4 linked regions of the Homo sapiens genome follow. The protein of the gene in region 2 purifies or fractionates together with the protein of the main gene of each other region. This does not show direct contact. Each region holds a gene or a part of one and is shown on either strand. Other genes may lie near its edges.

The links.
Region 1: the proteins of MUC13 (region 2) and SFXN1 purify together in Homo sapiens (affinity purification with mass spectrometry, with the first as the bait; one study listed by BioGRID). This does not show direct contact.
Region 3: the proteins of MUC13 (region 2) and MYO1D purify together in Homo sapiens (affinity purification with mass spectrometry, with the first as the bait; one study listed by BioGRID). This does not show direct contact.
Region 4: the proteins of MUC13 (region 2) and SUDS3 purify together in Homo sapiens (affinity purification with mass spectrometry, with the first as the bait; one study listed by BioGRID). This does not show direct contact.

The regions. Positions count from the first base shown.
Region 1 is NC_000005.10:175,513,060-175,516,559, forward strand, and holds part of SFXN1 (sideroflexin-1), read left to right. Parts: intron 1-403; coding exon 404-531; coding exon of another isoform or gene 532-536; exon of another isoform or gene 537-677; intron 678-3,500. UniProt on the Homo sapiens protein: Amino acid transporter importing serine, an essential substrate of the mitochondrial branch of the one-carbon pathway, into mitochondria.
Region 2 is NC_000003.12:124,921,252-124,924,751, forward strand, and holds part of MUC13 (mucin-13 precursor), read right to left. Parts: intron 2,399-3,500; coding exon 2,276-2,398; intron 1,053-2,275; coding exon 946-1,052; intron 1-945. UniProt on the Homo sapiens protein: Epithelial and hemopoietic transmembrane mucin that may play a role in cell signaling.
Region 3 is NC_000017.11:32,765,625-32,769,124, forward strand, and holds part of MYO1D (unconventional myosin-Id), read right to left. Parts: intron 2,129-3,500; coding exon 2,012-2,128; intron 1-2,011. UniProt on the Homo sapiens protein: Unconventional myosin that functions as actin-based motor protein with ATPase activity. Plays a role in endosomal protein trafficking, and especially in the transfer of cargo proteins from early to recycling endosomes.
Region 4 is NC_000012.12:118,383,055-118,386,554, reverse strand, and holds part of SUDS3 (sin3 histone deacetylase corepressor complex component SDS3), read right to left. Parts: exon of another isoform or gene 3,171-3,500; intron 2,544-3,170; coding exon 2,488-2,543; intron 442-2,487; coding exon 370-441; intron 1-369.

The DNA.
Region 1 (3,500 bases), on a different chromosome or scaffold from region 2:
GGAGGCCGAGGCGAGTGGATCACCTGAGGTCAGGAGTTCAAGACCAGCCTGGCCAACATGGCAAAACCCCGTCTCTACTAAAAATACAAAAATTGGCCGGCACACTGTCACATGCCTGTAATTCTAGCTACTCGGGAGGCTGAGGCAGGAGAATCGCTTTGAACCCGGGAGGCAGAGGTTGCAGTCAGTGGAGATAGCCACCACTACACTCCAGCCTGGGCAACAGAGTGAGACTGTAAAAAAAAAAAAAAAAAAAAAAAAAAAACAGATGTGTCAGTACCAAAAATGACACTTGAGTGGGTATTTGAATTAAGTAGAGGGTTGATCTTTCCCAACATAGTACTATTTCAGGACGTTTATTGAAGGCATTGGTGGAGCTCTCTGTATGTGTTTTGCTCTGCAGGGAACTCAAAGTTGGCATTCCCGTCACGGATGAGAATGGGAACCGCTTGGGGGAGTCGGCGAACGCTGCGAAACAAGCCATCACGCAAGTTGTCGTGTCCAGGATTCTCATGGCAGCCCCTGGCATGGGTTAGCAGGACTTTGTCATTTATTCCATAAATACAGGTTGAACCAGCGTTCACGGATCCGTGAACCAGAAAACAAACACATATATCACACCTCTTAGTGGAAATTGCCTTCCACTGGGGGTGGCAGAAAATAAACAAGTAAATAAAGTATGTAGTATGTGCAGTGGTGATGAGGGCAAGGGGGCAATGGGGCTAGGGCGTGTGGGTAGGGCAGCCGGGGAAGAGCACTGGGTGGAGGTGTGGGAGTGAGCCAAGTGGGTATCGGTGATGAATATTCTGGCAGAGGGAACCACAGGCAGGAGTTTGCCTGGTGTGTTACAGGCATTACGGGTGCAGGTGCAGCTGGGGCACAGTGGGAGGGGTGGGGAGCAGTAGGAAGGGAGTCAGGAGGCCACAGACGGCAGAGCGTGGATGGCAGCCCTGGCGTTTCACACCTGGGTTTTAGTCTGAGAGGTAAGAAGCCAGGCAGGGTTTTGCATACAGGAGCAGCACAGTCTGACTTAGGTTTTATCTGTGTGACTCTGGGTGGTGGGTTGAGAATAGGCTGAAGGAGAATGAGAATATTCAGTGGAGGCTGTGCGGGGAGGCTGCCTCAGTAATCCAGGCAAGAGGCAGTGATGGGCTGGACCAGGGCCATACAGTGGGAATTTGACCAGAAGGAACTGATGGAGCAAATTGGAATGGTTAGAGCAGCTACTGATAAAATGTGTGCCAAGCAACTGCTCAGGTTTCCCTATAGGGACTGGGGTCAGAATGACCAAAAATAGAAAGTCTACATTGTATTTAGTTCTGCTGAGAATCTCTAGTCCACCCTAAGGCTGCTTAGAGCTACCTTCAGACCAGGGGCCTAAAGAAAGTTCTCAGACTGAGAAATCAGAGGGCCTGGCAGTTAGAGTGCTCTTCACAGAAAAAAAACAGAAATTAGTATGTTTAATTTTCATCATCTAAACTGAATGCAAACAGCGCTTGGCAATTAAAATGAAGCTCTCCAATGAAGTATACTTCATCAGCTGCTGTCAAGTCATCCATTGATACTGTTTTGCGGTTTTTAAATTCCTTTTGTCACTGTGACTGCTCATCAGCAGGCAAGGAAGAGCAGGCAACAAAAGTTGAAAAGTGCATGAAGGAAAACTTTGAGGAATATGATATTCACATTCCAGCAAATTGGGGGAAAACTGCTATTATCTGGTTTAACACAGGAGTGCCTTGGTGCCCTGCCTGAGGCTAATGTGTTCTGTAGGGGTGGCTGCACAGCCACAGTCCTGAAACATGGGAAAGCATCTCCTGAGTCCAGGGACCAGCACGTTTGTCACTAACCTAAAAGGAGGCTATGGAGCCCACCCCGGTGTTCCTACTGAGCCCTGATTTCCAGATTTGCTGAAATCGAGGTTGCGGCTCCAGCTTCTGCCCTGGGTTTGGTTTGTTGTTGTCGTCGTTGTTTTTGAGACAGGATATTGCCCTGTCCCTCAGGCTGGAGTGCAGTTGCTGTGATCATGGCTCACTGCAGCCTCAACTTCCCTGAGCTCAGGTGATCCTCCTACCTCAGCTTCCCCAGTAGCTGGGACTACAGGCGTGCGCCACCACACCCAGCTGATTTTTGTATATTTTGTAGAAACAGGGTTTTGGTATGTTGCCCAATTAGTCTAGAACTCCTGGGCTCAAATGATCCACCCACCCCGAATGCTAGGTATACAGTTGTGAACCACCATGTCCGGCCCTGGGTTTGCTTTTGATTGTGGTCTTTTCTGTTTTGAATTGCCTTACTCCTCTTAGAGTTCAGCCAGTCCAGACGGACAAATCCATTTCTAGTGATTTGGTTATTTTAAACACTATTTAGTCCCCAGAGAAGAAATACAATCTTTCTGTCCTAGTGCAATTTATAAGAGTAATTGACATATTGAAATAGTGGATATGACAGTTTAGCCTGATAAAAGTTGTCAGCAAATGAACGAATGCTGTCCACCGCATACCCAGTGTTTTACATGCAGTATTGTCTCCAATTTCCTCCATTTTATAGAAAAAGAAAACAGAAAGCTGAGGCTCAGAGAAGTTAGGTAACTTCTCCAGGGTCACCCAGCTAGCAAGTGGTCTAGCCCAGCGGTCCCAAACCTTTTTAGCACCAGGGACCCATTTCATGGAAGACAATTTTTTCATGGACCAGGGGTCAGGGGGATGGTTTCAGGATGATTCAAGCACGTTAAATGTATTGTGTACTTTAGTTCTATTATTATTACATTGTAACATATAATGAAATAATTAGACAAGTCACCATCATGTTGAATCAGTGGGAGCCCTGAGCTTGTTTTCCTGCAGCTAGACAGTCCCGTCTGGGGGTGATGGGAGACAGTGACAGATCATCAGGCACTAGATTCTCATAAGGAGCGGGCAACCTAGATCCCTTGTATGTGCAGTTCTCAATGGAGTTCAGGCTCCTGTGAGAATGTAATGCGGTCGCTGACCTGACAGGAGGCAGAGCTCAGGCGTAATGCAAGCAATGGGGAGCAGCTGTAAATACAGCTAAAGCTTCATTCACTTGCCCACTGCCCTCCTCCTGCTGGGCAGCCCTATTCCTAACAGGCCAGAGATCCATACCAGTCCATGGCCCAGGGGTTGGGGCCCCTGGTCTAGCCTGTACGGAAGCAGTTTCTGCCTGACTCCAAGGCAGGATTCTTTACACCATCCTCCCTGCCTTGTGCCCTTTGTTTTATTAATATAGGAAGAAAAAGTTCCTGATATTTTTATTTTTGTCTACTTAAACCTAAAAGTAAAGTTCTTTTCAAGATTATAAAACTTTCTGGCTGGCAGAGGATGTGATATTACTGTTCAAAAATTTAGAAAATCAGAACAGTTTTCAATCTAATGAATTCAAATGTAATAATTTAAAGAATTGCTACAAACTGTTTTTACTGTGACAGTGGAAATAGCCTAAAAGTGACAGAAGCTTTCTGTCAAATGGTTGAAAAAAAAAGT
Region 2 (3,500 bases):
AGATTCTCCTGCCTCAGCCTCCTGAGTAGCTGGGATTACAGGCGCCTGCCACCACGCCTGGCTAAATTTTTGTATTTTTAGTAGAGATGGGGTGTCACCATGTTGGCTAGGCTGGTTTCAAACTCCTGACCTCAAGTAATCTGCCCGCCTCATCCTCCCAAAGTGCTAGGATTACGGACATGAGCCACCATGCCCAGCCTCCACCTCAACTTCTAAGACATATTTAAGGCTAATATTTTTTCCTTTAAAACTGAACTTTGAGCTGTATTGGCTGGACATGCTCTGAGGGTCCTTCCAGAGCTAACATCTGTGGCTGCAGAATGGAAAGACCCTTTCCTTTCATGCTTGCTCACATGTGTGCACTTGCTCACAATAATCTAAATGATGGGAAACTATTGTTCATGCCAACATTTTTGAAAATGGGAAAAATAAGTAACAGATATTCAGATGTAATTCTTCTTCTAGACATTTTTTTAAAAGCCAGACTAGTATGAAAATTTATGCAAATTTGAATATAAAAAAGAAAAACAACATCTTTAAATTTTTTCTCTTTCATTCTGTGGAAATAATTTATTTTAAAACTTCATGATATTTATCTGTCCATTTAAAACTGTGTTAATAGCTTATAAAACAATGGGTATGGTATGGCTGGAGCCAGCTTCTGCAGGCCCTCTGCCATGCCAGGCCAGGTGCCACGCCTCCAGGTGCAAGACCATGGGGTGGTCCAAGGGTCCCAGGGGAGAGGCCTGGGCAATGAAGAAGTGGTGGCACCGGTGGAGGCGCTCAGGACAGCTGCTGTTTACCGACCAGTAAAGGTACATTTCACTGTTTGAACAACTGGTACGATGGTACGAGCGTGAACCACCTGAAGACCAGCTCTACACTCTGCAACTCAGTGTTAGAACAAAGAATGCTTTACAGAAAGGAAAGTTGGAAAATACTTACCAAGCTAGTAATTTCACTATGCAAGTCTTGATAGGCCATGGAATGTTTCTCTTCTGGGTCAAATGTTTCTGATACTGTCACTGAAATCTTCCCAGGGAATACCTTTCCTGAAAGTTAAGCAGAATCTTTCTGTACTATTTGATGAAAAGAGGGTCATTTCCATTTTGTTTTAAAACATAGATTATTTTTTAGAATTCCCAACATTATATAACGACACTACAGGAAATCTGGAAATATTTTAAAAGTTACCCATCATCCTGCCCAACCTAGCACAACCATTTTAATTTTGGTATATTTCTTTCCATTTACAGTTTACATTGTTGTAATTCCAAGTTTATGCCATATTTTTTTTCTTCTTATTATATAATAGGTATTTTCCAAATCGTTGCCTAGTCTTTTTTTTTTTTTTTTTTTTTGAGAGAGAGAGACAGATAGGGTCTTGCTCTATCACCCAGGCTGGAGTGCAGTGGCACAACTGGGTCACTGCAGGCTTGAACTCCTGGGCTCAAGTGATCCTCCTGCCTTGGCCTCCCAAAGTGCTGGGATTACAGGTGTGAGCTCCTATGCCTGGTCTCATAACCATCATTTTTAAAGGTTGCATAATATTCTGTGAAGTACATGTCCCCTTCCTTGATGTAATCATTTTTTGTTATTGGACTTAGTGCTTTTAATTATTTAAAAGGAAAAGAAAAAGTTGCAATGAACATCTTCACACACAAACTGTTCTTCTGTATTTGGGGTCACTTACTTAGAGTAAATCCCCAGGAGTGAGATTATTAGTGCTAAAAATATGAGCATTTGGGGGCCTTTTGGTATATCCCTAACCCCAGTGGGCAATGCAATGCATTCATTTCTTATAGAATTGGCTGCTCTGGAAAATGAAGATATTTCTCATTCATAAAACAGAAAAAAAAAAAAAACAGAACTCAGACAGTCAGCCCTCAGACCTTCACTGCACCCTGGTGATCTAATCAAAACATCATTATGCCACAAGTGTATAAATGTACTCCTGAAATCCATTTTTAGAGCTGAAGGGCTCTTATGTCTCTAAGAGGGGGATCTGATGTTATGGAGCAAACAAATCTTGTGACACAGAACTGAAGATCAGGCTCCCAGGGTTGCTGGACTGTGTGGTCTTTGATAGATCACCTTGTTCTGCCTCAGTGTCCCTAGGTAACAGCACTTTTCTCTACTTTGCTGGCCTTTGTTGCCTCTGCATTTTCTTTATCTCTCATATTTTGGAATCTCCTTTTGCCATCATTTTGAGTTTTCGATTCCACTTTTGGTGTGAGATACAGAGCTCAGCCATGGCTCATCCCTTGTAACTCACCTTTCTTACATGTAGAAGAGTTGTAGTAATACCCTTCTAAACACAGGCAAAAACTTGTATTATGCAGCTTAACACATAACGAATTATCTGCACAGGGATCATCTTGGCAAGGATTGCTGGGACCTTAGATGGAGTAGAAAGAGATTAGAAATCCAGAGAAATGACAATAAATAACAACTGGAAACGTATTTTTCCATCTTCATGCCTCCCCCCTGGGCCCTTTCCATTCCTTGCTTGTGTTACTCCACAGCACACTTTTGGAAGAGTTAAAAACAAATATTTGCTTGCTTAGGTCTCTAGAGAGTTTGTTTCTGAAATTCTAGAGCCAAGTATAATACTTGTCAATAGTAAAGATCAGAGATTAGTGTACAAGGGCTTGCCCAAAGAAAGAGAGATTGCAGTCTTCTGACTCCAAGGAGTCAGGAATCTTCAGATCTCAAAGTCCCTCCAGAACCTTGAAGCATGGTCCTCTAACACTAGGTGGGGCTCCCCAAAACATTCTAGATAAAACATCTTATTTTTAGAAAGGTATGAATAATTGTCATATAGGAAGAAACAGCCAAGAAGCTCCAAAAGAAACTAGATGTCACATTCTGTTAGGCATACCTAGGAGACATAGCCATAAAAACAGGAATGGGATAGTAAAGGAGAGAAATGTGGATTAACTCAGTGAAAATTCTAAGAGGCCATGAGAAGACATTCCAGCCTCTGGCTTTCTAAGTGGATCATCTGAATAAATGGTGAAAATAACACTGCAATGGGTTCTACACTGTGGGCTGAGACTCCCAGGCCAGGCAGGGTGTAGCATCTTTCTTTCTCTGGGGAACTGATGAGATCTGAGGAGGAGAGTTAGCTCAGTGGTCCAGTGGTGATCTGGGCTATGAGTTTTCTTCACTTCTGTCAAGTGGAATGATTCTGAGCTGTGATGTCAGAATAGCTTATGTGTTTGATAACCTTCAGAGCTGTCTTGAGAGTCTTACAAACCTATATGTAGAAACCACTGATTTCTTTAAAAGCTGTATGTAAGGTACAATGTGTATAACATGCTCTCTTTTGTGAATAAAAGAAGGGAAGGATTATACACAAGCAAATATTTGCTTATATTTGCATAGGTAATTTCAGGAGGGAGATACAAGGAATTGGGCACAGAAGTTGCCTCTGGGGAAGGAAACTGGGGGTCTGGGTCCTGGGGGTTTAGGATGAGAGGGAGATTTATTTTTTATTG
Region 3 (3,500 bases), on a different chromosome or scaffold from region 2:
ATTTTTTGTATTTTTAGTAGAGACAGGGTTTCACCATGTTAGCTAGGATGGTCTCGACCTCCTGACCTCATGATCCACCCACCTCGGCCTCCCAAAGTGCTGGGATTACAGGCGTGAGCCACCGCGCCTGGCCTTTTTCCTTAAACTTTTTAATCCATCCACAATTGATTTTGGTACATGGTATCAAGTAAGAATCTAACTTTATTTTTCACATGATTAGTTGCTCTAACGGGACTTATTGAACAGTCTAGCTTTTTCTGATTTGAAATGTCACCTTTTTTTTGAGACAGGGTCTGTCACCCAGGCTGGAATGCAGTGGTGCACCATGGCTCACTGCAGCCTCAACGTCCCAGGCTTAAGCGATCCTTCCACCCCCAGCCCCTCTAAATAGCTGGGACTACAGATGCGTGCCACCATGCCTGGCTAATTTTTGTATTTTTTGTATAGATGGGGTTTTGCCATGTTGCCCAGGCTGGTCTTGGAACTCCTGGGTTCAAGCAATCTGTCCACCTCAAACTTTCCAAAGTGCTGGGATTACAGGTGTGAGCAACCCCGCCCAGCTGAAATGTCACCTTTTTAATATGTTAAATCTCCTCAAGTGTTTGAGTCTATTTATATTCCACTCATTCAATAAGCAATACATACTTATAACCATCTACCAAATGTCCAGCACATTAACCAATCAGTTGATTAATCTGTTGATCTGGTGCTGAACTTGTGCAAAGTTATAAAGTACTCTAGCTTTTACTATCATTTTAAGTTTGGTAGAACTAGTCATGTTCCCTCTCCTCCCTTACCCTACCCTATACGACACTTCTTTAATATACTTTATTTGATCTTTTTCCAGGTAAATTCTAGAATCAACAGGTCAAGTTAAAAACAAAATAAAGGCCAGGCACAGTGGCTCACGCCTGTAATCCCAGAACTTTGGGAGGCTGAGATGGGCAGATCACGAGGTCAGGAGATCGAGACTGTCCTGGCTATGGTGAAACCCCGTCTCTACTAAAAATAAAAAAAATTAGCCAGGCGTGGTGGCAGGCGCCTGTAGTCCCAGCTACTCAGGAGGCTGAGGCAGGAGAATGGTATGAACTCGGGAGGTGGAGCTTGCAGTGAGCCTAGATTGCACCACTGCACTCCAGCCTGGGTGACAGAGCGAGATTCCATCTCAAAAAGAAAACAAAACAACAAAAAATAAAATTCTTGTTTGGATTCTGAAAAGGACTGCTGCACTGTATTTAAAAACTGATTCAAACAGATGAGACAATTTATAATACTAAAGTCTTCCTAGTCAGGAACATTTATTGTTTATATTGCTATATAATATTTTTCATAAAGATCCTGCACATTTCTGATTCATTTAGAGTTAAATCTTGCTATATTAAGTGAAAAGTAATTTTTATTCCAGATTTGAATCCATGTTGTCATTCTTATTGTAAGATTATATGTTCAGTGTATTTTAAGTATCTCTAATTATATAAATGTTAATGAAAGAAATCTAACACACAGTTCTTCACTTCTAAGTTTGGTGTGGTATAGTGGGAAACAAGTGGCCCAAAAGTGGTCTATGGTGTTGGCTCTGGGATGAGCTGGCTGTGCCTTTGAGGTAGTCATGCCACCCATCAGGGCTATTTCCCAATCTGTAAAATGAGATGATTAAAAATCCAGTTCCGATAACCTATGATTCTATGTTTCAAATGCCACTAGAAATTTATACCACTAGTAGTCACATCACTGCTGAATTCCTTTATCCTTAAAATTAACCAGTTCAAAGTTTGACAATACCAGTAAGACAATCAACTGAAGTAGTAGTCTCCAACCCTATAGTAGCTTGGAAAATCCCTCATAATATTATAAAATGATGGCAAGAACCACAGACATAGTAATTTCTTCAAAATACGTACAAAATTTTCTCTGAATACTTTTTAAATCTACAGGGAAAAAACAAAATCTTCTGAGAAAGCATCCTGTTCTCAGCAGAAGACAATACATTCTGAGAGGTGTCCCTACTCACCAAGTGCAGAATAGCAGCCAAAATCTTATACACTGTTTGGATCTCCTCAGGTTTGAAGCCAATGACTTTCATGGCATCAGCAACAACTCTGAATTCGGCAGCATCATTGATAGAAGACTGGGGATGAAAATGAAAAACTGAAGTTACAGATATTTCCTATGAGCATTAAAATTCAACAATTATAAAACTAAGTTATACCAAGGTTTTGCCTTCATAGTAAATCACTTGAGGGGATGGTGAGTCTCCAGAGAAAATAAAAATGATTTCACGAGTTGCAACATTATTCAGCACGTACAAAGCCCACTTGTGCGTGAAAGCCATCACCTAAAATAAGCACTGTGCCGTTTTCTGGAACCTTCAGTGAGGGAGCAAGTCCTGAGCTGGCTCAGACAAGCTGATCCCCCACTCCATGATCAGTGAAGGCAACAGCATGGATGTGAGATCACAAATGCAAGTGCTGAATGTGGGAGCCTCCAAGATACATGCTTGGCTACTGTTGTTTGTGGCTCTTTGTTCCACAATTGTCTTATTTAGGCTGGCAACAACACTTCACTCTCGTATAATCAGGCGGTTTATTTTCCAGGTGAGGCAAGGCGGGCCCTCAAAAGCAAAACAGCCAGCCTCAGTCATTTAGTAAGCTATTAAATAGTCTGGGACTATAACTTCATTCTTTCACTCACTTGATACGCATTTCACAAGTCAGCTCTACTAACTGGTACAGGCAGCTCAAAGATGAATCGCCTGCCCTTTTAGAGCTGTGGCCATCACATTGGAAATACAAGTGCGTAAACAGAAATTCGCAATAAAGCAATAGTAACTGCTTATATTAGTTTTACCACAGCAGCAGCCGCAGAGGCTTGACCAATTCTTTCCTCAGTAAGTTTCTCCTCTTGTTTGGATACAGAGACCTGGCCTGATGCTCACTTGTTGAGGAAGGGCCCTGGAAGGGGACCTCTCTGCCTGGTGAGTACAAGTTCCTCTAGTGTCCAGGAGACAACCAGGCCAGCCCCTCCTCCTCCTAGGTTTTTGTTTTTACCTTGGACAAGATACTTAACCTCATTGAACCTCAACTTCCTCACAAATAAAATGGGCATAATAACATATATCTTACAGGGTGGTTGTCAGAATTGAATGAAAATTTATATAAAGCACCTCTCTAGCACCAGCATACAAAAAAAAACCACTCAGCAGTATCAGATATTACTATTATTATAAACTGCAACCATGTTGAAGTTGGAAAGTAACTGGATAAAATCTAAATGTCCTACTGTGGGGAACTGTTGGCTGCTTACCTAACAGCCATCCTCTACCCTCATTTCTTTCTTGCCAATCGAACCCTGATTTGTTTACTCCTCTCTAAGTGTGCATGTCCTTTGTGACTGGCATCTACCTAGCCTCAAGAGGTAAATCTTCACTGGTCTAAACTCATCAGAGTGATCTTATTTCCCTTACTAAATGACTGGTTAGCCACAGGCATGGGATGCCATTC
Region 4 (3,500 bases), on a different chromosome or scaffold from region 2:
AAAAACTTAAAATGGGACAAAAACAACCTACAATCCTTTTCCTCATCCGCACTTCTGACTGTACATCAGGCCAGCCATGCAGAAATGAGCAAGAGGGTGCAAGACTACTCTTGGGGTACCAGGGAGAACAACCTAACTCCAAGGAGCCTCCTCAGACACCCTCCACTTCTGGGCCATTCCTTAGCAACAGAAGCAGAAGATGAAACCACTTTCCATAACTGCAGCTTGGAAGTCTCTTTTCTGAAAACTCTCCCTGACAGAGTATCTGGGATATGTTTTGGAGAATAGCTCTTAGGGCTGCATTACACCGACGATCGGCAAATGGTCAAACATTGAAAGATGATTCATTGCCATTTAAAGGAGCCTTACCTGCATTCCGTATCCTCTCTTTGTACTGCTGATCTAGTTTTTTCATTCTCTTCTGATATTCCTGTAATGTACCTGATTTTGAACATTTGAAAAATAAAATTATTGTGAATATAAATCTGCTCTACATTTTGCTTCCTAAAATTATTATCTAGCATCAACACTGACTGTTTCAGTAACACCAAAGGAAGACACACCTCAGCAAAGTTAACTCTGGTTCTTAACCAAGGCACACAGCAGAAACCACTAGGGGCCCATTCAAAGTCTACCCAACCCAGTGGATCAAGGGTCTGTAGTGAGTGAGGGGGAGTGGAAAATTGCCAATATCTCCACACTATTCTGATCAGTTGCTGCAACAGTCTGAATCAACGGGCCTTCCTTTACTGGAAAAGGTTCATTCTCCTTCAGTAAGGTCTAGGTCAACGCTCTCCAGTAGAACCTTCTGCAATGGTGTGTTTTATATTTGCAATGTCCAACATGGCAGGCACTAACCATTTGTGGCTATTTTAGCACTTGAAATGTAGCTAGTGGAACCGAAGAACTAAATTATTAATTAAATTTAAACAGCCACATGTGGCTAGTGACAGCATTAAACAATTCAGGTATAGATTCTAACCAAATCGCTATTCATTTCATTGCTCTTCCCACAAAACAGTTAATTATGAGGGGCCCATCTTGTGGGGGGAAGTGTTTCCTGATTATAATGCCTGACCATGGGCTAGTCCAAGGGCGTGGATCACTCACCAGCAATAAAAGCACATAGTAGAAACAGCAGTATCAGGCTGGGCATGGTGGCTCATGCCTGTGATCCCAGCACTTTGAGAGGCTGAGGTGGGCGGATCACCTGAGTTCAGGAGTTCAAGACCAGCCTGGCCAATGTGGTGAAACCCCGTTTCTATTAAAAATACAAAAATTAGCCGGGCCTGGTGGCAGGCGTCTGTAATCCCAGCTACTCGGGAGGCTGACGCAGGAGAATCGCTTGAACCCAGGAGGTGAAGGTTGCAGTGAGCTGAGATCGCGCCACTGCCCTCCACCTGGGTGACAAAAGCGGAACTCAGCCTCGAAAAAAAAAAAAAGAAAAGCAAAAACAGTTTCACTGACAAGGGGACTCCACAATATGAAACCGAAGAGCTCACTGCCACAGCTAACTGTCCCCAGGACCTTGCAGTGTGCACACTGCTGTGCTAGACGCTCCTCATGCATAATCACATCTACTCTTACTTGCTTCATTTTGCAGATCAGAAAACAGATTAAACAAGAGAAACTGGCATGTCCAAGGTCACATTACTAGAAGCAGGGAAACTGGGATTCCAATCCCTCACAAAACTCCAGAGCCTGCACTCTTTTTTTTTTTTTTGAGACTGAGTCTCGCTTTGTCGCCCATGCTGGAGTGCAGTGGCACGATCTTGGCTCACTGCAAGTTCCGCCTCCAGGTTCACGCTATTCTCCTGCCTCAGCCTCCAGAGTAGCTGGGACTACAGGTGCCCACTACAACGCCCAGCTAATTTTTTGCATTTTTCAGTAGAGACGGGGTTTCACCATGTTAGCCAAGATTGTCTCGATCTCCTGACCTCGTGATCCACCCGCCTCGGCCTCGCAAAGTGCTGGGATTACAGGTGTGAGCCACCGCGCCTGGCCTCACAGCCTGCACTCTTAACTCTGATGCTGCACTGCCTTTAGCAGCTAGCAGCATTTGACAAAATACAATCTACTTTTAATGTAACAAGCAAAAAGGAGAAAACACAGTGTGAATAATCCACAAGGTCATTAACATTTGGTTTAGAAAAAACAGTAAAAACTTTATTCTTTGATAACAATGTCTCTCCTAAAAATCTCTAGCTTTAGGCACAGTGGCGTTCAATTCGTGCTCCATTGAAAGTCCCAAGTGAGATTTCATTTGAAGAAAGAATCTCACACATACTGGAAATAAATGTTTCAAAATCAAGGAGCTGGAAAATCACCACTTTACTGACAGCAAAAGATAGCAAAATGTACTGGATAGCTAAGATCAGCCAGACCGTGTTTTAAATAACTCCCACAGAGAAGTGAAATACACAGATTTCAAGGGTTTGTAATATTAAGAAGCATATTTAGAAATGCAGGATTCAATCACACACCAACCTTCTTGCAGTTGTTGCAACTGCCTCTTGAGAGAAGCCAGTTTGTCCTGATACATCCTATAAAAAAAAAAAAGTCACACTAACAGATAAAAACATTCAATACTCAATTCCAAAATAACCTACTCACAGAAATTAGCTGGGCTGTTATGGGAAGGTCATTAATGTCCTTCAGGGAAGAGAGGAAAGTAAAGTCTGCTTGCTGGCTTAAAATGCACCAGCAGCCACAGGGATCAGAAAGGAACAAGAAAGAACCCTGTGTTCCTCAATCTTATTCTAATTTTGTAGATTCTCCCATGTTATCCCATCTTTACAGAATCCGTCTAAAACTTGCAACGATAGCAGATTTTAATAAATGACAATTATAAACAGGCAAGCACACACACAATGTAGAAATGGCATTAAACACAACTCTTACATCAACTCTACAATTAGATTGTAAGTTACAGGAGAGTAAGATTATGCCTTCAGCATGTTTTTCTATGCAGATATGCTTAGCAGTGTAAGAACTAAGTCAATAAACCTTCATGTCATTTTTTAAAGCACTACTCTTTTAGGATCAGAGAAATAATAGTAATTCAGAAAGAAAAGTTAAAAGGCAGCATTTACTGGCAGCCCCAGCTGGATGGGAATACACAGCACACACGAAGCAAAAGCATTTGGCATGTTAGTTTTTTCCTCTCACACCTAATGGATTATAGGCAGTCATAACTTCAGCAAGTTGGTTTGAAGGTGGGTTCCACATATAAATCACATTTCAGCAAGTATTTTTGCTTCTACCTGAAAAACACCCTCAATTTAACAGTGATAAAAACAAGATTTGTGATCTGAAAGAACACTGTCCAACATATAACAAGCACAATAACCTTTTGGTATATGTGCTGCTGAAGTGAGCACATGGGCGTGATAACCTTTTTAGCGCTCAAATAAGGGCTGCAAATACAACCCAACCCTCTGTAAGGGGAGGAGAGTAGGCAGAATTTGAGACTCACACACATCTCACTCTTTCAGGGCAAA